3 linked regions of the Homo sapiens genome follow. The protein of the gene in region 1 purifies or fractionates together with the protein of each later gene. This does not show direct contact. Each region holds a gene or a part of one and is shown in the gene's direction. Other genes may lie near its edges.

What was found.
Region 2: the proteins of KLK13 (region 1) and SERPINE2 purify together in Homo sapiens (affinity purification with mass spectrometry; 3 studies listed by BioGRID and IntAct, with this or other methods). This does not show direct contact.
Region 3: the proteins of KLK13 (region 1) and SERPINB6 purify together in Homo sapiens (affinity purification with mass spectrometry; 2 studies listed by BioGRID and IntAct, with this or other methods). This does not show direct contact.

Annotation. Positions count from the first base shown.
Region 1 is NC_000019.10:51,062,078-51,069,757, reverse strand, and holds the start of KLK13 (kallikrein-13 isoform 1 precursor), read left to right. Parts: upstream 1-4,665; 5' UTR 4,666-4,690; coding exon 4,691-4,742; intron 4,743-4,838; exon of another isoform or gene 4,839-5,160; intron 5,161-5,896; exon of another isoform or gene 5,897-6,172; intron 6,173-7,680.
Region 2 is NC_000002.12:224,029,273-224,036,294, reverse strand, and holds part of SERPINE2 (glia-derived nexin isoform b precursor), read left to right. Parts: intron 1-4,816; exon of another isoform or gene 4,817-5,319; intron 5,320-6,087; exon of another isoform or gene 6,088-6,223; intron 6,224-7,022. UniProt on the Homo sapiens protein: Serine protease inhibitor with activity toward thrombin, trypsin, and urokinase. Promotes neurite extension by inhibiting thrombin. Binds heparin.
Region 3 is NC_000006.12:2,968,554-2,976,076, reverse strand, and holds the start of SERPINB6 (serpin B6), read left to right. Parts: upstream 1-4,509; 5' UTR 4,510-4,544; exon of another isoform or gene 4,545-4,928; coding exon of another isoform or gene 4,929-4,960; exon of another isoform or gene 4,961-5,272; coding exon of another isoform or gene 5,273-5,319; intron 5,320-5,353; exon of another isoform or gene 5,354-7,265; coding exon of another isoform or gene 7,266-7,298; intron 7,299-7,523.

The DNA of each region.
Region 1 (7,680 bases):
GGTGTGAACATCCGCTGAGAAGCCCAAGACCCACAAGAGAAGTATGTTTGGAACATGGGAAGGGCAGAGAACAGAAGTTGGTTTTGAACATGGAGATGTTGAGTAGGCAGCTGGATGTTAAGTGGAGAGTTTGAGAGTCAGACCTGGCTGGAGACATAAATTTGGGAGTCGTCAACATGTAGATGGTATTTAAAGCCACGAGACCAGATGAGATCACCGAGGGAGTGAATATAGACAGAGGAGAGAAGAAGGCCAAGGACCGAAGCCTGAGGTGCTCCACCATGTAGAGACTGGGGAGACAGGAAGAAACCACCTCCAGACACGGATGAGAATCAACCAGTGAGTGATGAGGAAAACCAGGAGAGCATAGTGTCCCAGAAGCCAAGGAAAGAAACAGGGAGTAGTCCACTTGTTAAATGCTGCTGATAACTCCAGTAAGATGAACCTGAAGAGACGGCCCTTGGATTCAGTACCGTGGAGGTCACTGTTGCCCTAAACAGGGGCATGGTTGGTACAGCAATGGGAGAGAAAGCCTTCATAGTGTGGGCTCCAGGGAGGACGGGAGGACAGGAATTGCAGGCAGTGAGCTTAGCCAACTTTTTAGGGAAGGATTGCAGTTGTACAGAGCAGAAAATGGGCCAGGAGCTGAAGGAGAACATGAGAGTGGGGAGAAATTTTTGTTGGTTGGTTTTCAAATTTTAACGAGAGATGGGAGAAACTGTAGTATATTTGCATGCTAATGGGGCTGCTCCTTGGAGAAGAAGGAAAACATGTTGCAGGAAAGAGAACAGAGAACTGCTGGCTGGAGCAATGCCCTCCAGAAGGCAAGAGAGGACAGGATACCAGCACCAGTGGAGGCATCTATCTTAGCTGCAGGTGCAGACTGTTCATCTAGAGAAATGGGAGAGGAGACAGAGGATGTGGGCACGCAGGTAGGTGGCAAGACCGACCTTTCTAATTTTTGCTATTCTGATGGATGAAAGCGATGTGTTATTGCTGCCTGGGATGCATGATGACTGGAGCCACATCCTGAATAACACGGATCCAGCTCTAAAGAAGAATCCATGTTTCTCAACTCTCTGTGCCTCTTTCTCACCAAGAGTCTGCTTCTCACTGGGCATCTCTCTCTTTCTATCTCTGTGCCTCTGTCCTCTGAATTTTCTTTCTGTCCTCTCCCACCTGCCCCATCTTTCTGTCTCTGTGTATTTAGCCCTTTGTATCTCTCAGTCTTCCCCTCCCTTCATGTTTGCGTTGGGGCCCCTCCTCTGGGCCTGGGTGTGGGGCCTACTTTCTCATCCCAGCTAGCACTTCCAACCAGAAGTTCCAGTTCCTGCTTGACAAAGAATCCCATTTTGAAGCCAAGATAGGGAGGGGCCTCCTGGAACCGTCAGATGCCTCCATCTTAAGCTTTACTTATTTAACAGGAGCATTGTGGCCCTTGGTCCATGCCACACTCTCTTCGAAGCATTTTTGGGTATTAATCCAGTTAACCCTTCTCCATAAGGCAAGTGCTATTGATTGTGCCATTTTACAAATGGGGATGCTGAGGCACAGAGCAGTCACATCATCTGAACTCAGGCAGTCTAGCTCCAGAGTCTGAGGTCAGAACCACTAGGAACACCATCTCTTTTTCGGGTCCTTTCTTCTTCTTTCTCCAGCCCGGTTCTCTGTGGTGGAGGAAAGACCTGCACCTGTGACAGAAGCGCACTTGGATTTGGTCCAGTTTGTGTGTGACTTTCAGCCGTGGGCTTGTTCATCAAGTGAGGGGGTGGAAGGTGCCCAGCCCTCAGTGGGTCCATGACCTCACTTCAACCAGAGCTACCCAACCCGCGTTCGGCCAATCATAACCCCTAACATCAATTTGACCTGGCACTCACCCCTCAGCAAATAACAAGGCCAACCACCCTCACTCCAGGCTCCAGCTTTTCCCAAGTGAGAAAGGCTTCTCTGGAAGCATGGACCCAGGTCACAGGAGGGTACAAGTACCCCGATTTCCCACATAAGCTGGTTGCCGCACTTAACCTGGCATCCTACCTCCAGCCACACCACCTGAACACAATTCCACTCAAAAAGTGAACTCAGACCCCGCCCTGTGAGGTGGGAGAAGTCCAGGGTGGAGAAAGACAGTGACCTTTCTTTCACCTTGAGAGGTGGGGTATGACCCAGCTCACCCCCACCAAAACCTACTGCATCATAGACACTCAACCTCATGGCCAGTCCTCATCACCCATGTCAACCCACTACCCCAGCTCAACCACATCTTAACATTTCCCCATCCAAAACCTCAATCTTGGTTCCATCTTCAGCCCCAACCCAACAGTACCCCAACACCAACTTATCCCTAGATACCTCCCATCTTACAATCTAATCCTATCCCAAAACCAGCTCAACTACCACCTCCAACTCTATACCCATCCTCATCCAATTTTCATTCACCTCCCCAAACTCATTGCATTCCTAATGTTGTCATCAGGCCCATCCTTAACCATAGACTCTACTGATTTCCTATATTAAGCCATATTTTTCTTCTTAGCAAAATACTTTGAAATGGACCCAACATTGGACACTGAGGTGTCGCCAATGCAAAGTTAGATGGGTTATCTGATTTTATGAGGTCTCTGTACCCTTTCCTGTCTTTGAGCCACTTTATGACTCTAAATTGTAGGTATCTGAGAGCAATGCAAATAATTCTTGTCCATAAATGTTTACATGAATTTTGCCAGGTGGAAGTACAATGGATTTCCCTCCTCCTCCCAGTGTGGAATAGCCAGTTTTGCATCTATTTGTAAATTCATTTCAGCATTCCTCGTTGTCTCTGTGCATATGGCTCTTTGTAACATCTTACTGGCTCTGCCATTTATTAATGAGTCAAGATACAATCTTTGACACATGTTCATTTCATATATGTCAGAGAGTCATGGTAAGACCATGTTTTAAAAGTTACCCTTTGACACTAGATTTGATCTCCACATCCAAATCTGAACTCCATCAATAAGGACTGTACAAGTTTCCATGTGAGCCCTCGCCCCATCCATCTCTATTCTTTATCCTCATTGTGACACCTCCACTCTCTCACTCTTTCCAAACTTCATCTGGTCCACGTCCCTGGCTTTCTTCCAAATTCTGACCCCACCTCAGTCCTTAATCCCTAATCCTGTCCCCTCCACCCCCTAGGATTAACTCAGGGCTCCACCCAGTCATAGTTCCTGGAGACACCTACTCATTCTCAAAACACCACCCCTTCCTCCTTCCTCTCCCCCACCCCCAATCCACGTCTTCAAAGCTTTCCGGCTCCTGCTTTTTCCTCTCCACCTAGGTCCCCGTGGACTCCCTCACCCCCTCTGGCCCTGCTCCTAAAAGGCCATTTCTGGAAAATGTTGCTTTCTCAGGTCGCATCTCTGCCCCCATCCAAGTCCGAGGGAGCTGATTTTCTATCCACCCAGCTGATGATTTCCTTCTTGTGTCCGGTGGTTGGCGGGAGCAGGGAGGCAGGATGATGGGATAATTGTGGGTGTCCTTGTGTCTTTCAAAAGAAAAAGGGTTGAGATGAGACTGGGAATTGGAACCTGGATGTGTTGAGAGCTAAACCTGAGATGAGGTTGGAGATGGGACTGGGGTTGAGGAACAGGCTGGAGTACTTGGTATGGTTAGGGATGGATAGGGAGGTGGGAATCTGATAGAACACGGCCATCTGGGGGCTGACTGCCTATTAAGAATTATGCATGGGGTTGGAGAAGAGGTTAGAAAACTGGGTGCAGAATGGGTTGAAGTTAGGGATGGGCATGGAACTCAGCGGGGTAGGGGGAAGGAAATGGGCTTTCCCCTTACCCTTTTTTGGGTCCTGAGGCCTGAAAGTTCACAGTGGGTTCAACTCTGCCTTGGGCGGGGTCAGACCTAGGTCCCAGCACGTCCTGGAAGCTCCGCCCCAAGCAGAGGGCCAAGCCCAGGTCGGGGGTGCCTGGAGACATCCCGCTGAGCCACTGGGGGTGGAGAGGGGGAGGCCAGGGACCAGGAAATGCTGAGTGAGCTGGGGGAGGGAGTTCAGGGGTTAAAAGCCATGGTTCGGGGCTGAAGTTCTAGACAGCTGGCGGCTGACGCTCCTCGTGGGCCCCTCACTCAGGTAGGGTCTGCCTGGGGCGGGGGCGGGGAGCGGAGGAGGGCAGGGAGGGGAGAGAAGAGGGGATAGGAAGGATGGGGAAAGCAGAAGGGCAGCTGAGTCAGGGAGAGGGAGAGTGAAGCTAGAGTCTCAGATCTAGAGAGAAACCTGCAGAGACGGAGAGAGGCGAAGGGCGCGGACAGATAAGAACTTGGGCTAATACCAAGCGTGTGGACAGACCCAGAGGGGTAGAATGGAAGGCAGACTCTGGAGGAAAAGGGCGAGAGTGCACCGACCACCCAGCTCGCCAGAGGGCAGGGGAGGAGGGACGGCTTCCTGGGGTGAGGGGCTGCACGCCGGAGCCCCAGGAGGTTGCACACTGTTCCTCCCACCTCGCCACTGCACCCCCACCAAGGATGGAATTGGAGGCGGGGGGCAGATTCCAGGGTCAGGGCTGTCAAGAGTGAATGAGGCGAGGAGACATTCAGGAGCAGAGAGGTTTCAGACGCGGAGGTTCCGGGCACGCCCTCAACACCCCCTTCACCTTCTCCTCAGGCCCCGCCCGCCCTGCCCTCCCCTCCCGATCCCGGAGCCATGTGGCCCCTGGCCCTAGTGATCGCCTCCCTGACCTTGGCCTTGTCAGGAGGTAAGAATGCGCGGGGGTGGAGGCGCGGCGGCCATTCGGGACAATGGTAGGAGGGGTCAGGCCGGAGGGGGAGGGGGCGTGGGAGCCGCGAGCTCCGCCCCCCGCCCACTCGGGGCCGGGTCCAGTGGGGACAGCTCAGAGCTCTTCCTGCTTGTCCCTGGGTGACCTGGTTTCCCGGCTGAGGTTGGCCCTCCGACCCCAGACCCTTCACCTCCCAAAATACCCTCGCAGCAGCCCCTCCCGCGTTCAAGGCTTCCTGTCCTCTCTGGAAAGCTGAAAGACATGGGTTCGCGTCCTGACGCTGCCGCTTTGAGCCAGTAGCCTAGCAGCTGCTTTGTGCCTAAATTGTTTTCATCTGGAAAATGGGCTTAATCTATAAGTGCTTACCAGAGAAGGTCACTGTGAATATTGAAACGAGGTAATGCGTCGAGCCTTCAGTATGTCGCAGGTAGAAGGGACTTGAAAGTTAGCCACTTAGCCGTTATTACTTTATTAGTAGTATTCCTTTTTTTTTTTTTTTTTTTTTTTGAGATGGAACCTTGCTCTGTCTCCCAGGCTGGAAGGCAGTGGCACGATCTTGGCTTACTGAAACCTCCGCCTCCCGGGTTGAAGCGATTCTCCTGCCTCAGCCTCCCGAGTAGCTGGGATTACAGGCGCCCGCCACCACGCCCAACTAATTTTTGTATTTTCAGCAGAGACGGGGTTTCGCCATGTTGGTTAGGCTGGTCTCGAACTTCTAACTTCAAGTAGCCCGCGTCAGCCTCCCAAAGTGCCAGGATTACAGGCATGAGCCACCGAGCCCGGCCTCTAGTATTCTGTCTTCATACTCAGCCCCTTCCAGAACCTTCTAGATTGTTATTTTAATCCTTGGGTTGACCCCAAACCTATGTGACCTCACCCCAAATTGGTAGTCCTTAAGATCCTTATGGATCTTTCCCATCTTTCCCTGCCGTTGTAGGCAGGTTCTCTGGAAACCCCGTTCATGAATCATTTATTCATTCAACAAACAGCTATTAAACACCGGCCACTGTGCTGGGTGCTGTACAAGCAGAGACACAGTCCCTGCTCTCAGCACCTGGAGTCTAGCGGGGACAGACGCAGATGTTATTCAAACAATTATCCAAATAATTAGTTAATAATTATCTTGACATGAGGTGAAGACTTCAAGGAGCCAAGCCAGGGGCCTAGAGATGTAATGGCGGCTTCCCGACCAGAGGCCTTCCCAAAGGGCTTGACCCTTGAGCCAAGACCTGAAAAAGGAGGGATCTGTGGGTGCCTGGCACCTGGCACCATCCTTGGCCTGAAGGTGGGGTGGCTTTTCTCCTCTGGCGACACTCCCTGGATTCATGCCCGTGCCACTCCTGAGTGCCACACCCTAGGCTAGGAGACCCACACGCTACGCCTTGTGGAGTCCTCAACAACCTGGCGAGGTAGGTGCATTGTAATTACTCCAATTTCATGGCAGAGAAACCTAGGACTCAAAGACAGAAGGCTCCTGCTCCAATGACACCGGCGATGCCTGAGTCAGAATCCTAATCAAGGTTGTTTTCCCTGTCCATATCCTGGACTTGAGGCTCTGAAAACCATTTTTATAACTTTTGACCTAATCATTTGCTTAAAGTTAGCTTTTTTTCTTCTTTTTTCACTCAAACAAAAGCATGTTCAACTTTATATTACTGTCCTGAATAGAGAATAGAATTCTTTGTCATAAATAGAAGGTAAGGAAGGAAATAAATCCTGCACAATGAAAAGAAAATAATATGTTTATTGGGTTGGACCACCTGAAATTGCTGATACTTGACCCTTTTTGACCTTCCTAAAACAACTTTTGCAGATGGTTCAGTGTAATAAATGTTAGGTGGCCTGATGAGGCTTCTGTGTCCTCCTGGCTTTGAAAAGTGAGCTCAGTGAGGATTAGGGAGGTGTTAAAACCATATTAGCACCATCCTGAGACTTTATCCTTGACAAAATCAGGTTTAAAAGAGAACTGGATGCTGGTTCAGCGTCTGAGTGTGCGATTTAACGTTACTTAAATCTCATCTCTCTACCATCTAAAATGATCCTGTGCTCACCGACAACTTCTGTCCCTAACTGCAAACCACTGAGCTAATCCAACTGCTTGCCCTGTAGTTGGGGAAACTAGCTAGGGAGGCAGAGGGACCTCCTGTTGTAGCTAATAATTAATAATAACATTTCCCACTGACTGAGTGCTCTCCATGCCACCTGCTGTGCTGCACGGTTTGAAATGCAGGATCATCTTGAATTCTTCAACTGCGCAATGAGAGATGAACTATTACTTTTTCTACTTGACAGCTGGGGAAACTGAGGCTGGTGATTTGCATAAGGTCACACAGTCACAAAATGGCATGCATGTTCAGGATTGGATTCTCCCTGTCCCACGGACCCCTGCTGTGCTTTCAATGCCAGACACAGTGCCTGGCACACACAGCATTTATTTATTGAGCCCCCATTGTGTGCCAGGCGCTGTGTTAGGTCCTGGGAATATGGTACTGAATAAAGCAGTTAAGGTGCCTGTTGTCAATGGAGCTTACAGTCAAAGTGGAGAGATTTTTAAAAACGAATACATACAAATGTGAAGAGAAATGAATAGCAATCATTGTTCTGATGAAGACCAACTGGAAGAATGTAATGGGGGAGGAGTCGGGACCAGGAGAGTCAACATTAGACCAGGTGGTCAGGGAAGGCCTTTCTGAAGAGGAGACATTTGAGCTGACCTCTCAGAATTAAGAAGGACCCAGACATACAACCTCTAAATTCTGAGGGTCATCCAGTAGAATATTCCATATATGTATATATGAAATATCCTATATCTGTGCTGTCCAATTATCCACTAGCCCCTTCAGGCTATTGAACATTTGAAATATGGCTGGTGTGACTTAAGAACTGAATTTTTAATTTAGTTTTACTTCATTTTAAT
Region 2 (7,022 bases), on another chromosome or scaffold:
GCATCTCTGCTACCTCTTGGGGTTACCCAGGGTTCGCTGTCATCCCTTTTGTGCTCTGTGTATTTGGGTGAACCATGTTCCCACAGCTTCGACTCTCACCAATATGAAGCGAGTCCCAGATTGGCATGTTAAGCTAGCTTGAGCATGCTCCTGTGTTCCAATCAGTTACCTGCAGTCTGGTGCGCTTACCCGTGCCCTTTAGGCCAAAAAAACACCCCAAAATAAATCCAAAATTGATTTTAGTTTTCACCACCCACCCCATATCCGCTTCATTGTTAGCGAAGATTTGTCCGTTTTTTTTTGGCAGTGGTTCCACCGTTCATGGAGATGTTGGAGCAGGGGTCTCACGGTGATGCCAGGCTCCCGCACTGCCCACATGCAGGCTGTCACCAGATCCTGTTGCTTCTTCATGCTGTGAAATTCCACAAAGGTCCGCTCTAGTCACGCTGGCCTTGCCTTGCTTTAGAGCCCAAAAGTGGCAAAATGGTGGCCGGTGTGCCACTTCTAGCAGTAGGCAGCAGTGTTGTTGGCCTGAACAAAGTATATACAACTTGAGTTAATATTTAGAAATCTGGAGATGCCACTTGGATGTATAGCTTCTCCTAAAAGCCAGAAGACCTGGATGAGGCAGTGCGTGGTGGCTCATACCTGTAATCCCAGCACTGTGGGAGGCTGAACCAGGCGGATCACTTGAGGTCAGGAGTTCAAGACCAGCCTGATCAACATGGTAAAACCGCGTCTCTACTAAAAATACAAAAATTAGCTGCGCCTATAATCCCAGCTACTCGGGAGGCTGAGGCAGGAGAATCGCTTGAACCCGGGAGGCAGAGGTTGCAGTGAGCTGAGATGGCGCCACTGTTCTCGAGCCTGGGTGAAAGAGTGAGACTCTGTCTCAAAACAAAAACAAAAACAAAACAAAAAAAACCTGGAATAGGAAGCTTACATTCCCATGTGGCAAACCTCAGCTGCTGCTGGGTTTCCAGTGCCTGAATACACTGGAGGTAGGTTGCTTTCTGGTTCCCCCAGACCTGTGACCCTTGCTTATAGTGGCGTTCTGGCTCCCATGGGCTTCAGAGCTAGAGACCCTAGGCTGAGACGATCATCGACAGCCTGGGAATGCCTAGTGCTTACTGCACAGTGTCGTGCACCTCATGTTGCATCCCTTCTAACTCTCTTCCATGTTATTGCTGGTGTGACTTTCCTCCTGCTGCCCCAAATCCAAGTCTTCTTGGGTCCCTCCTAATAAAATTCAATGGCTCCCTCTTGATCTGGGCTTAAATCCCTGACTCTAAAGGAGTGGCCATGTCATATCACAAGTTTGGTATCTCAAGATTGAAAGATGAGCTCTCCGCTATCTTTATACAGTGTTGTACCCGAGTTTCTGAAGATGCTTTTGAGCTTCTGTAGGGTAGTTAATACAGAGTTCTAGTGTTGATGACAGTCCTGCTGTTTACAAAGCATTTCTACAAGCCTGACTACTGCCCCACTTCCTCGCAGCCCCCCTGGGTGGAGATAGGGCAGGGTCGATTCTATATCCCAAACAGCAGTGGGGAGTCTGTAAATATGGAGGCATAGGCCATCCCAGGGAGTCCCCCACCCTTGGAACATGGGGAACCTTGTTTTACATGTGGTATCCAGAGTCATACAGTGTGTTCCTGAGGTCATTTAGACACCTTAGGGCAGAGTCTTGACCCAGAACTCAGTTCCTGTCAGCATGCAGCCAGGGAACTTTCCACAGTGCTCCATGGGCTCACCAGGCTGCTGGCCATTTGTAATGACCCAACAGAGTCAAAGCTTTCTTCACTCCCTTCCCATCTCCTTGCCTTGTCCCCTGCCTGAAACATTCTTTTCTTGCAAAACTGAACCTCCCGTAAACTGCACTGGTACCGCCCAGTGCTTTTCTGCCTTTGCTCCTTCTGTACCTCTGCCTGGAATTCCCTTTCTCCTCCTGTGTTCATTGTCTGGCTGATTTCTCCTTTTTCAAGACTCAGGCTCAAAAAGGCCTTGCTGGCAGTCACCACCCCAGCCCTCTGTGGCACATGTGCAGTGTACACACACGTCACCCCTCCCCGTGCCTACCTCAATGATGGCAGTTTTTTGTGTTGTAGCAACATGCCCTATCCAGTAGACTCTAAGCTCCAGAAAGACGTGCCTGTGTTTTAGTTTTATTTGCACCAGCGGTGGTGTGTGGCCCAAAGGCAATTAACAGATGTCTGAACTAAACCATATTCATATTTTTTGTAAGTTTACTGCATGCTTTATGGAAGAGTGTTTGTATTCCAGACTCAAAGGGGAGCTCTCTCTGCCAGACCTCCAGCCCTCATTTTGGTACTAGCAAATTTAATATATATCCTCAGACATTTTAAATTTTTGATTAACCTTGTCTTTTGAGATAAAACATTACTTAGAGAAAAGCGGAAGTCTAATACAGAAGCACTTGTGTGCCTGTGTTCACTTCAGTTATCCTCATCTGAACCTCCCTTTGGCATGGTTCTGCCCTCCTTGAGGTCTGTTGGCTGGGCTGCACTCTGCATTTCGTGGTTTTACAGGGTAGGAGAATGCATTTTGGTTTATTTCTATTAACTTTGGTGATGGTGATATATGACCTCTTGGTGACTTTTTTTTTTTTTTTGCCATGGAACTTTTTTGGCTGGTATCGTCAGTCACATTTGGTGGAAAGAGCAGGCTGGGAGAGGGTATGGGCTGCACCACCAATAGAGCGTGTAGGTTACCATCTAGAACTCAGTTTCCTTGTCTGTATAATGGGTATATTGAAATAAATGATCTAAAAGGTGTCTTATTTTTAAAACCTATAAATTCTTGGCTCAGTTTCCTTTTGATGTGGCTTTCTCATAAGTGTTAAGTCTAGATAAAATTTTTTCGTAAATGCATTATCCTGTGCTCATACACCTTAAAGTTCTTGTCTCTCACTTTTTTAAGCCTATAAAATCATTCAGCATTATATTCAGAAACAGCATCATGGGCCAACATGAAGATTTAGTTTGTATTCCCACTTAGAGCATTTATAAAAATTTTAAATAAATTAGGTCCCATATACTTGAATCTTGTCAACCTGTTCTCCACACATAAATGTGCCCATCTTCTCTTTGCAAACCATCTTTCCTCATGAGTAGATTGCACGCCTAATCTGAAAACCAATGTTGGGTTTTTAAAAAATACCCTTAGATACAGAATGGAGTCAAATGCAATAAACTACATCTTTAGGTTATCTCTTGTCTGCAAGTTCCCAATTTAAGAATACTGAGAGATTAGTATGATTTTATTTCTCTTTTGAGAAATACCACCTCCCATCCAACAGGCCAAGTCTATTTCTACAGTCAGTGAGTCTTGCCTTTATTCTGCTGTTAGATTTCTAGGTCTGGATGTAAGCCCAGTCCAGGGAAGTCGGCATCCCTTCTGGGATTCTTTCTGTGCATGAGGATGGCCACTGAGCCCAAGCAATCCTCTATTTGTAATTCCACTCGTATGTTTTGGCAAACATGTCCTAGGATTCCTCCAAAGGTTGGGGTGGACACCCTAGTTCAAGATTAGATCAGGAACACCCAGGCTTTTGCCACAGTTTGACGTAAGACATTATCCTTTGCTTCAGAAGATCATTTGAGAATTGGAATTTACATCCATTGTGCCTTTCCATTTTTCTTATTTAATTCTTTGAAGAATAATATGAGGAGACTTTAATATAAAAGAAAAAATCCCATCAAGAGTCAGAAAGGATTTCCTGTTACGGCTGCAAATCTTGGTAAATGCACTTTGTTTTTGTAAACCGTGCCCCACCCCCAACCCCTAGTGTGAACTCGTAACCTGGGGAATTTCTCTTGAGAGCATACCAAAAATAGCATCAGTGCCTTCTCTTACCCCTACCCCAACTTTCGCCCTCCATGTAGTTCCAGCAAATATAGCTATAGAAAAAATAACCACTTGTTTTTATCCTAAGTTTTTATGGGCCAAATCTTGAAGGTGGATGTGGGTATGTGAAAGAGTTTAATGCCAAATACAAAGCCCACTCGGAAATGAATAAGGTGACTACAAATGAAAATGGATGTTTCTTTCTTCCTTTGGGGAAAGTGCTATGTAAATAAAGGCAATGTTTGCTTCCTCTACTAAAATTTATTTCTGCAGTTTTTAAATAAGAAATCCACTCAAGAAGTTATTCTTACTGAGGATTTGGTCACTGTTAAGATTATAGGAACTATTAACTACTGCATTATCTTTTGCTTACAAGAGAACAAACCCAAATCAAAATAACTCGGAAACAAGGCGGAGAGCTGTTGGCTGACACTGCCCACTCAAGCATGGGAGAGGTGACTCTGGCCCTGAAGATGACTGGAACCAAAGACTGAGGACTTGGAGGCTTTCTTCTCTTTCTCCTTGCCTCTCATCTCTGCTTCTGTCTGCTGATTGTGGTTGTCCTCTCCGGGACCATGACTGTAGGTAGCTCCAGGCTTACCTCCCTACAGCCTCCTCAGTGAGGAGGAAAGAGGGGCTTTTCAGCCAGTTCCAGCCGGCGGGGGGGGTGGGGGGTGGAAATCCTAGGGAGGAATTCTGATTGGCTTAGTTTCAGTCACATGCTGTTCGCTGTACCAATGGCTGTGGGCAGAGGAGTGAGGTCCTATGATTGGCTGATGCTAAGTCACATGGTCACATGCTCGTCCCGATACCAATGGCTGTGGGCAGAGGAGTGAGGTCCTGTGATTGGCTGATGCTAGGTCACGTGGTCACATGCCCTTCCGTGTACCAATGGCTGTGGGCGGAGGAGGGAGGTTCTATGATTGGCTGAATCCCAAATCACATGGTCAATCCTTGGTTAGGAGGAAAGGGAGTGGAGAGGACCGTGCTGCCTGGCGTTCCCCAGCTGCCTTTCTTTCTGTTTTCCCCCCAACGGAATCTCTATGTGGTCTCCTAGAGCCTCGTGCCTGCCTCTCAGCTAGATGCTGATATCATTCCCACTCATGTAGTTGGGAAGGAAGGGTGTGGCAGAGATAAAGGGTCCACGGTCACGCAGTATGTGGGGGGTCACACAGCCTGTATGCCAAAGTGGCACACCCTGTGAATATGTAGGGTCGCACAGCCTTTATGTGTCAGTGCCAGAGCCTGGACCCGGGTCTGTAGATGTGTGAACCGTGAGCTGATACCATGGATATTCAAAGATTTACATCCCATCAATGTTTATACCTTCTTGAGAAGAAATTTGTGTCAAAGCACACTCCTCCTTTCAAGACTACCTCCTCGCCGTGCTGCGTGATAGCCCTAGTATCACAACCAAAACACATGATACAGAAAGAGGCCAGTATCTGTGTGGTACGTTTGAATCATGGTTTTATGCCTTTGGCCCCCTAGTTCCTTCCTCAGACACTTGTTTTTTTCTGGGACTGAAATCTAAAATTAGTACTGACCTTTGGATTGAGAAGGTAGAGAGATTTACACAAGAGTCCAAGCGAATAACTTAAGCTGAGCTGGATAAAACTCAGCAGAATCACAGAACAAGTGTGCCATGACTTTTCAAACATGCCTAATTGAACTCTGTTTGCGATTTAACTTCTTTTTCAAAGGTTTATAGTTACCTTTATTTCAAAATTTGTCATTTTAAAATATGTGTTTCCTCCTTTTCCTCCACTGTATAGTAATTAAGAGTGTGGAGGATTTGGAGGCCAGCGGGCTTTGGTTTGAATCTAGAGGCTACATATTGGAGGGTATGAGCCAAAGCCAAATTTCTAAACATCTCCAAGCCCATCCGTGAGTTGGGCCTAAAGGTGTTTAGGCTTAAGGGCCACCCCTGAAGTGTTGTGAGGATGAAGCGAAGAGTATATCTTAGGCGCTAAGCACAGTGGCAGGAATGGAGCTGACTTTCGGGACACGAGGTGGCTGTGGTTGTGGCATTGGGTAATATTTGTCACAGAAGTACAGGTGAGCACTTCTCTGAGACTCATGTCTTCCTCGTGTCTTTGGCCTGATGAATGAGTGACTTGCTCTGTGTCTTTGCATGCTTTGTTTCCAGACACCTTTCCTGCTGCACTCTCAGTGGGCAGTACTCCCCAATGATCACCTGGTCATCTGTCCTGCCCGCAGGCTTCAGGCTCTTGTGCGTTGGCCATGAAGCAAAGGAAGGCTGTTGCATGAAATAACCTCCTTCTGACTCCACCCTTGCATTTGTGAGATGTAAACAGCAGTGTTACCAAGAGGTCTTCCAGGGAACACGTTGCAGGTAGCCCTGTCATGCTGGCTGCTTTTTTCCATTAGGTTAGTTGTGAATAACGAATAAATGTCTATGCAGGGCCAGACATGTCTATGCTGGCTCACGCCTGTAATCCCAGCAGTTTGGGAGGCTGAGGTGGGCAGATCACTTGAGGCTCGGAATTCAAAAACAGCCTGAACATAGTGAAACCCTGTCTCTACTAAAAATGCAAAAAATTAGCTGGGCATGGTGACGCACGCCCGTAATCCCAGCTACTTGGGAGGCTGAGGCATGAGAATCACTTGAACCCCGGAGGCGGAAGTTGCAGTAAGCAGAATTGTGCCACTGCACTCCAGCCTGGGTAACAGAGGGAGGCTCTGTCTCAAAATAAAACAAAACAAAAAATGTCTATACAGTAGGAAAAATAATCTATTTGGTTTAATATTTAGGTCTCTGCAAGGGTAGCATCCAGAGGCTTCTCTTTTCATTCTTGTTTTTCTGACTGTGAAAAAATCATTCTACTGTGTCCAGTGATGTCCAGATACCAAGAAATAACTATTTTAAACATATGGTGAATATTGTTAAAGCACATGGTGATGGTCATTTAATTATGATTTGATTCCGTCAATATGCAAAAGAGTTCTAAGAATGTTGGGTTAACCTTAGCAAGCATTCCCAGATAGGAAATGTGTTTTCTGCTACCATTGATAGGATTTTTTTAAGGATTTTACTGGCAGTTATCCACTTTGGACTTCATACAGCAGTCTGAGTATATGCCCACACCTGAGTTGTTGCTCTAACAGTGAGATTAGGGGATGCCAGGGAGAAT
Region 3 (7,523 bases), on another chromosome or scaffold:
CTTCAATCTTATTTAAATCCAGGTGGGATGGCAGAGAATGCCAGACTACAGAACCCCTTCCTAGGTCTCCCTGCCCAGTAAACCTATTTTGAGAAGAAGCCATTGAGGTTAGGAATGACTTGCCCTTTGGTGAAGCTATATGGGCTCACACTTTCATTTTGTAGATACTAACACCACAAGTGGTCAGGCAATTTGCTCCACTGAAGGTATCAGCCAATGCAATCAAACAAGAGAAAACGATTAGAGAGATGAACATTGGAGAAAGAAGTACAACTATTTCTATTTATAGGTGATGTAGTATAGCTATAGATGACTTAAAAGAATCAATAAAAAATACAAATAGTAAAAAATTTCAGTAAGGCAGCAGGTTATAAAGTTAATACATAAAAACAATTTTCTCATCCACAAACAAAAGCTAGTTGGAAAATATAATGGAAAAAACTTGCTTACATACAATATCAACAAAGAGATAAAATAACTAGAAATAAACTAAACAAGAAATGTGCAAATCTTACATGAACAAAACTTTAAAGGAAAAAGGAAAAAAATTATTTGAAGGAACAGAAAGACCCAGCATGTTCTTGGCTAGAACAACTAAATCAAAGTACAAATGTTGGTTTATAACAGGGTAATATGTAAATTCAATATGTTTCTAATAGATTACCAACAAGATTTATTTTTATTTTCATTTATTTTATTTTTATTTTATTTTATGTTTTTGAGACAGAGTCTCGCTCTGGTGATCCACTCACCTCTGCCTCCCAAAGTCCTGGGATTATAGGCGTGAGCCACTGCATCTGGCCTGTTTGACTACAGTTTAATTTTATTTTTTTAATTATTATATATATATTTTTTTGAGACAGGGTCTCGCTCCATCATCCAGGCTGGAGTATAATGGCACCATCTCAGCTCACTGTAACCTCTGCCTCCCAGGTTCAAGCAATTCTCCTGCTTCAGCCTCCCAAGCAGCTGGGATTATAGGCACACGCCACCAGGTCCAGCTAATTTTTGTATTCTTAGTAGAGATGGGGTTTCACCATGTTGGCCAGGCTGGTCTTGAACTCCTGACCAAGTGATCTGCCTGCCTTGGCCTCTCAAAGTACTGAGACTACAGGTGTAAGCCACCATGCCCTGCCAACAAGATTTTTTTCTTTAGAGCTAGACAAGTTGACTCTTAAATTTGTATGGGTGAGGCCGGGTGCGGTGGCTGACACCTGTAATCCCAGCACTTTGGGAGGCTGAGGAGGGTGGATCATGAGTTCAGGAGTTTGAGACCAGCCTGGCCAACATGGTGAACCCTCATCTCTACTAAGAATACAAAAATTAGCTGGGTGTGGTGGCATGCGCCTGTAATACCAGCTACTTGGGAGGCTGAGGCATGAGAATCGCTTGAACTCAGGATATGGAGGTTTCAGTGAGCCAAGATCGCACCACTGCACTCCAGCCTGGGTGACAGAGAGGGACTCCAGCTCAAAAAAAAAAAAAAAAGTTTGTATGGGAGAAAAAGCAACAAGGAGAGCCAGGAAAATCTGAAGCAGAAGAGCAGTAAGGAGAATGCGCTGTACGAGATATTGAATCATAAGAGAAAACCTCTATAACTGAAAGAATCTGACCAACAGAACCAAATAGAAAGTTTAGAAAGTTCAGAATCAGACCCAAGTATATGCAGCTATTTGATATATAACATAGGTGGCATGTGAAGACATTAGTGAAAATGGTTTTTCAATAAACAGAGGTGGAAAAACTGAAAGTCACTTGAAAGCGAGTTAAAATTGGATCTATATTTCCCATACACCAGAATAAACTTTAAAGGGATCAGCAATCTAAATATAAAAAATAAAACTGTGCAAATACTAGAAGAAAACATTAGTGAACTCTATAATCTAGAGATTATTCTTTTTTTTAAAAAAAAAGAGATTGCTCCTTGTGAATAGAGAAAGTTTTTCTAACTACGACTCAGAAACAATAAAGGAAAAATCATTAAAGTTGACTACATTAAAAGAGTGTATGCCAAAATCACCAGAAGCAATGTCAGAAAACAGATGACAAGCTGGGGGAAATATTCGCAATTTATATCACTTAAGACTAATTAAGCCACAACTAGGGAGGGGCGTGTGGTTTGCTCCTGGCATCCACTTGGTGAATCTCCTCCAGAGATTCTGTGAAACATGTGTGATGGCAGGACAGCCCCCACAACCACAAGTTATCGGGTTCATGCGGTCAACAGTGTCGCAGTTGAGAAACTCTGCCTTAGGGTAAGCACAGAGGGAGTAAAACAGCTTGAGTTCTCAAAATTGAACTCATGTAAAACACCTGGCTAGTATCTTCCCTACTTCCATTTATGCTAGATGTTTCTGTTTTCCAAGACTGCTCTGTCTGAGATGGCAGATGGAGTTTTCATACTTACTTGGCTAACCTGTCAGTACCCTGGGGTCTAATTCCTATGCCTGGAGAGAACTGGAAGTCCTTGAACACACGGCTCAATGATGTGGGCTCTGCTCATTTATATACATTTATTTTTAAATTTAATATATATTTTAGTTTTTTTATTTCCATAGTTTTTTGGAGAACACGTGGTATTTGGTTACATGGCAAGCTTTTTTTTTTTTTTCCTGAGATGGGGTCTTGCTCTGTTGCCCAGGCTGGGGTGCAGTGGCATGATCTCAGCTCACTGCAACCAACCTCCGCCTGCTAGATTCAAGCAATTCTCCTGCCTCAGCCTCCTCAGTAGCTGGCACTACAGATGTGTGCCACCATGCCTAATTTTTTTATATTTTTAGTAGAGACGGGGGTTTCACCATGCTGGCCAGGCTGGTCTCGAACTCCTGACCTCATGATCTGCCTGCCTTGGCCTCCCAAAGTGCTGAGATTACGGGCATGAGCCACTGCGCCCTGCCAAGTAAGTTCTTTAGTGGTGATTTGTGAGATTCTGGTGCATCTATCACCTTAGCAGTATACACTGAACTCAAATTTGTAGCCTTTTATCCCTCACTCCCTTCCCACCCTTTTCCCCCAAGTCCCCAAAGTCCATTGTATCATTCTTATGCCTTTGTATCCTCATAGTTTAGGTCCTACTTATGAGTGAGAACATACAATGTTTGGTTTTCCATTCCTGAGTTACTTCACTTAGAACAACAGTCTCCAATCCCATCCAGGTTGCCAATGCCATTAATTCATTCCTTTTTATGGCTGAGTAGCATTCCACCGTATACGCATACCACAGTTTCTTTATCCACTCTTTGATTGATGGGCATTTGGGTTGGTTTCATGTTTTTGCAATTACGAATTGTGCTGCTATTAACATGCGTGTGCAAGTATCTTTTTTGTATAATGACTTATTTTCCTCTGCGTAGATACCCAGTAGTGGGATTGCTGGATCAAATGGTAGTTCTATTTTTAGTTATTTAAGGAATCGCCATACTATTTTCCACAGTGGTTGTACTATCCATCAGCAGTGTAGAGGTGTTCCCTCTTCACCAAATCCACGCCAACATCTATTATTTTTTGAGTTTTTGATTTTTTGATTAAGGCCACTCTTGCGGGAGTAAGGTGGTATCACATTGTGGTTTTGATTTGCATTTCCCTAATCATTAGTGATGTTGAGCATTTTTTCTTGTTTGTTGGCCATTTGCATATCCTCTTTTGAGAACTGTCTATTCATGCCAGCCCACTTTTTGATGGGATTTTTTTTTCTTGCTAATTTGTTTGAGTTTCTTGTAGATTCTGGATATTACTGCTTTGTCGGATGTATAGATTGTGAAGATTTTCTCCCACTCTGTAGGTTGTCTGTTTACTCTGCTTGACTATTCCTTTTGCTTTGCAAAAGCTATTTAGTCTACTTTTTTTTTTTTTTTTTTTTTTTTTTTTTTTGAGACGGACCAGACTGGAGTGCGGTGGCGCCATCTCGGCTCACTGCAGCCTCTGCCTCCCGGGTTCAAGTGATTCTCCTGCCTCAGCTTCCCCAGCAACTGAGATTACAGGCACGCGCCATTACACTCGGCTAATTTTTGTATTTTTAGTAGAGACGGGGTTTTGCCATGTTGGCCAGGCTGGTCTGGAACTCCTGACCTCCAGTGATCCGCCTGCCTCGGCCTCCCAGTGTTGGGATTACTGGCGTGAGCCCCGCGCCCGCCCCTGGCTGGCTTCTTTGCCGCAAGCTGTTTCATCAGCAAAGTCTTTGTGACCTGTATCTAGTCTGCTCATTTTTAAATGCGTGTTCTGCACTCCCCAGTGGATGGCCGTGTATCAGGAGCCGGCCCTTTTCTGGAAACAGGCCAGCATTCAGTCTCCACAGAGGCACCATAAACACGCTGGTGGGGCCCTGTACTGTGGTCAAAGTCAAGGCCTCCGGGCAGGACTCGCGGCCCCTCCGGCTGGCGGGTGGGGTTGACCCGCACGTCCCGCCCCGCCTCTCCCTTCGCGCTCCGGACGGGCGACGGTAGCTCGAGACCCGGGACTCCGCCCGCCTCCCCGCGAGTATTTGAGGTCCGGGGCGGCTCCGGCGCCTCTGCCCGCCGTTCTGCTCGCTCGCTCCCCGCTCTGGAGTACGTGTCTGGCTTGGGAGCCGCTCGGACACGCTGGCTTGGGTTTGTCGCTCCAAAGTCGGGAAAGCCGGGGGCGCGAGCGGGGAGGGGGGCAGGGTGGGGGTCGCGCGGGGCCGGGAACGCGCGTGGGTCGACGGCGCGCGGGGACGCTGGAGCCCCGAGAATGGGGCGTGGCCGCGCGGGGCTGTGACCCCAGCAGTCCCAGCGGGGCGGGGGCCCGGGCGAGCGTCCGGCTTGGGTTCCCTTCCGGAGCCTCGCAGCGGCAGAGAACGGCGACGCGGCCGGGTGAGTCGTGCGTGGCCGCGAGCCCGGCCGGTGACGCCGCGGACCCGAGGACCCCGGGCGCCCAGGCCCAGCGCCCACGGAAGAGGCGGCCGGCGCGGGATGGGGGCGGCGCAGAGCCTCCCGGGCCACAGGTGACCCCGGTCGGCCCCGCGGCCTCGGTGACCCCTCGCCCGCTCCGCGACCCGGAGGACGCGTGCTCAGTCTTGGGGCGCCGGGTGTTAGGAGCCGGGCGGGAGGCGGAGAGAGGCCGAGGGGTTCGGCGCCAAACGGTGCCATCCGGGCCCCCTGCGTGTGTTCACTGGACTGGCCGTGCTGGGCTTGGCCAATCCGCAGCACTTTCAGGTCGCCCAGACCTGTGGAGACGATCGTGTGGACCAGCCCGGATCTCCTTACCGCTCTGTGTTTGAATTAAACTCCCTACAGGCAAACTATTACAGGCTTTGATGTCTTCAAGGCAAAGAGGAAACTTTAACTACAAATTGGCATTTAAGTTATTTTCTTCCTTTTTTTTTTTTTTTTTTTTGTCCTAAAGATTGGCTTCGGAAAACTGAGGTACAGAAAATTAATAATTAATGTTCACATGCTGTCAGGAATACTCAGATGCGAGGGGGCATCTGAGTCCATTTTTTGGGCACTTTTGCTTTCTGGGATGCTCTCGTGCCTAATGACAGCCCTGCAGCTGCCTGCATCCTTTCTGGTGGGGGTCAGGCCTGATGCGATGAGATCTGATGTGTTCAGTGACCTTCTAGTTAAGGTCCTGGGCCGGCCTTGTATTGCTGGGGCTTTTATGTGTGCTGGGATTAACACCAGTGACTGCTGTTATCAGCATAGATGGCGTTTGTTCTCATTTCAGGACCGTATCTGAGTAATTGCATCCATTGTGATGTGCCACCAAAGAGAAAAGTACTTTGGTCATACTCGACTATGTAAACTAAGTATTTTAAGTTAAGGCCAATTCCAATGCATTTTATTACAATTCAGCATGAAACAGTTAACACGGACCAGTAACAGTAGAGTGAAATTAGCATGAATAGAACCAACATTCTTTTCCACATATGTAATAATAAGGGCACCCAAGCAGATGTTGTACGGTCCCAGGGAAGACCACACACCTTACATTTCCAGGCTTACTGCACTTGGGATTAAGCCAAGGCATCCAAAGAAAGAAAATTTTTTTTTTTTTTTTTTTTGCCAGGCTGGAGTGCAGTGGTGCGATTTCGGCTGACTGCAACCTCCACCTCCCGGGCTCCATACCTGGCTAATTTTTGTATTTTTAGTAGCAATGGGGTTTCACCATGCTGGCCAGGCTGGTCTCAAACTCCTGACCTCGTGATCTGCCCGCCTTGGCCTCCCAAAGTGCTGGGATTACAGATGTGAGCCACTGCGCCTAGCCTGAAAATAATGTTTAACTCCCATTTATATGTTAGGCTGCTCAGATATATTAAACACATACACACACAACACACACACACACACACATACACACTGCACAAGGAAACAGAGGGACAAAGCAGGAAGTCCAAGTTTCCATTAAACCAGTCTTTAAATGGTTAAATTTAGTAGGAAATAAAGGCATCCTTAATAGAAGTTGAGAAGCACAATTCAATAGTGACACCTAAAAAAAAATTAAGACTTGATTAGTTGAATAAAATCAATTGTGAACATTGCTCAGTTACTGGTGATGCTACAGGAAAAAAAAAGTGATGCCAGGATAGATTTGTTAGGCTTGTTTAAAAAATACATAAAATTGTTCATTAATAAGACTTTAATATCCAGTTTTTATGTCTGTGATTAAATATCATTTTTTATTTTTAAATGGTATAGTTTTTAAATTTTGAAACAATTAATTTTGCATAAATATTTGTCTATGTACATATATACATGTGTATTCACATATATATATGAAGGACACTTAGCTATCTTATTTACTGAAGCTAAAGAAGTAGGTCCTTAAAAAGCCATTGACAGGTCTTGAGTTTGCAACGTGACTGTGAAACAGGCATCCTTGTTACTCACACGTTTGCTGAAAGGATAACAGAAAGCCCTCGATAGAAAAATCTCACTAGATTGTTTATAATTTGTTGATATTTGGAGTATCTTGAGTGGTAAACTTTAAATGTGGATTTATTTTTTCTTTCCTTTTAGGATTTGGATCTCTCCAATCTTTTTTATGATTAATTGTTCAGTGTTTATGCATTATTGCGAAGTGATAATGAAAATGCTCAAACTCAGGGTCCTGCAGGCACTGTGGGGGAGGCAGTGGGGACGTGAGGGGATTACAGATCCAGTAGAAGCCCCCCGACCCCCATCTGCTTCCACCCCATCTCCTTCCAGAACACCACCGATAGCCACACCGAAGAGTTCTCCCATTTGCTGGTTCCCGGACAAAAAAGCTGCTGATCCCTTGAGCACACTGCAGTGAAGCTCCCAGCTGACATGTCCTGTCCATGTAAACAGAACTTCCTCCATGTAAACAGAACTTCCAGCATTGTTTGTGTTTTCCTCTTAACTATGTACTGACATCCAAGGGTTGTTAGGAATGTTTGGAAAGTCTAGGTACAAAAGAGAGACCTAAATAAAATAAAGCAAACACCAGCCACCATAACAAAAGGACCCCAGAGATAGGCAGCGCAGGGAACGGAAGACTCAATAAACTATAATTGTGGTATCCAAAGAATTAGTATAGAAGGCAAA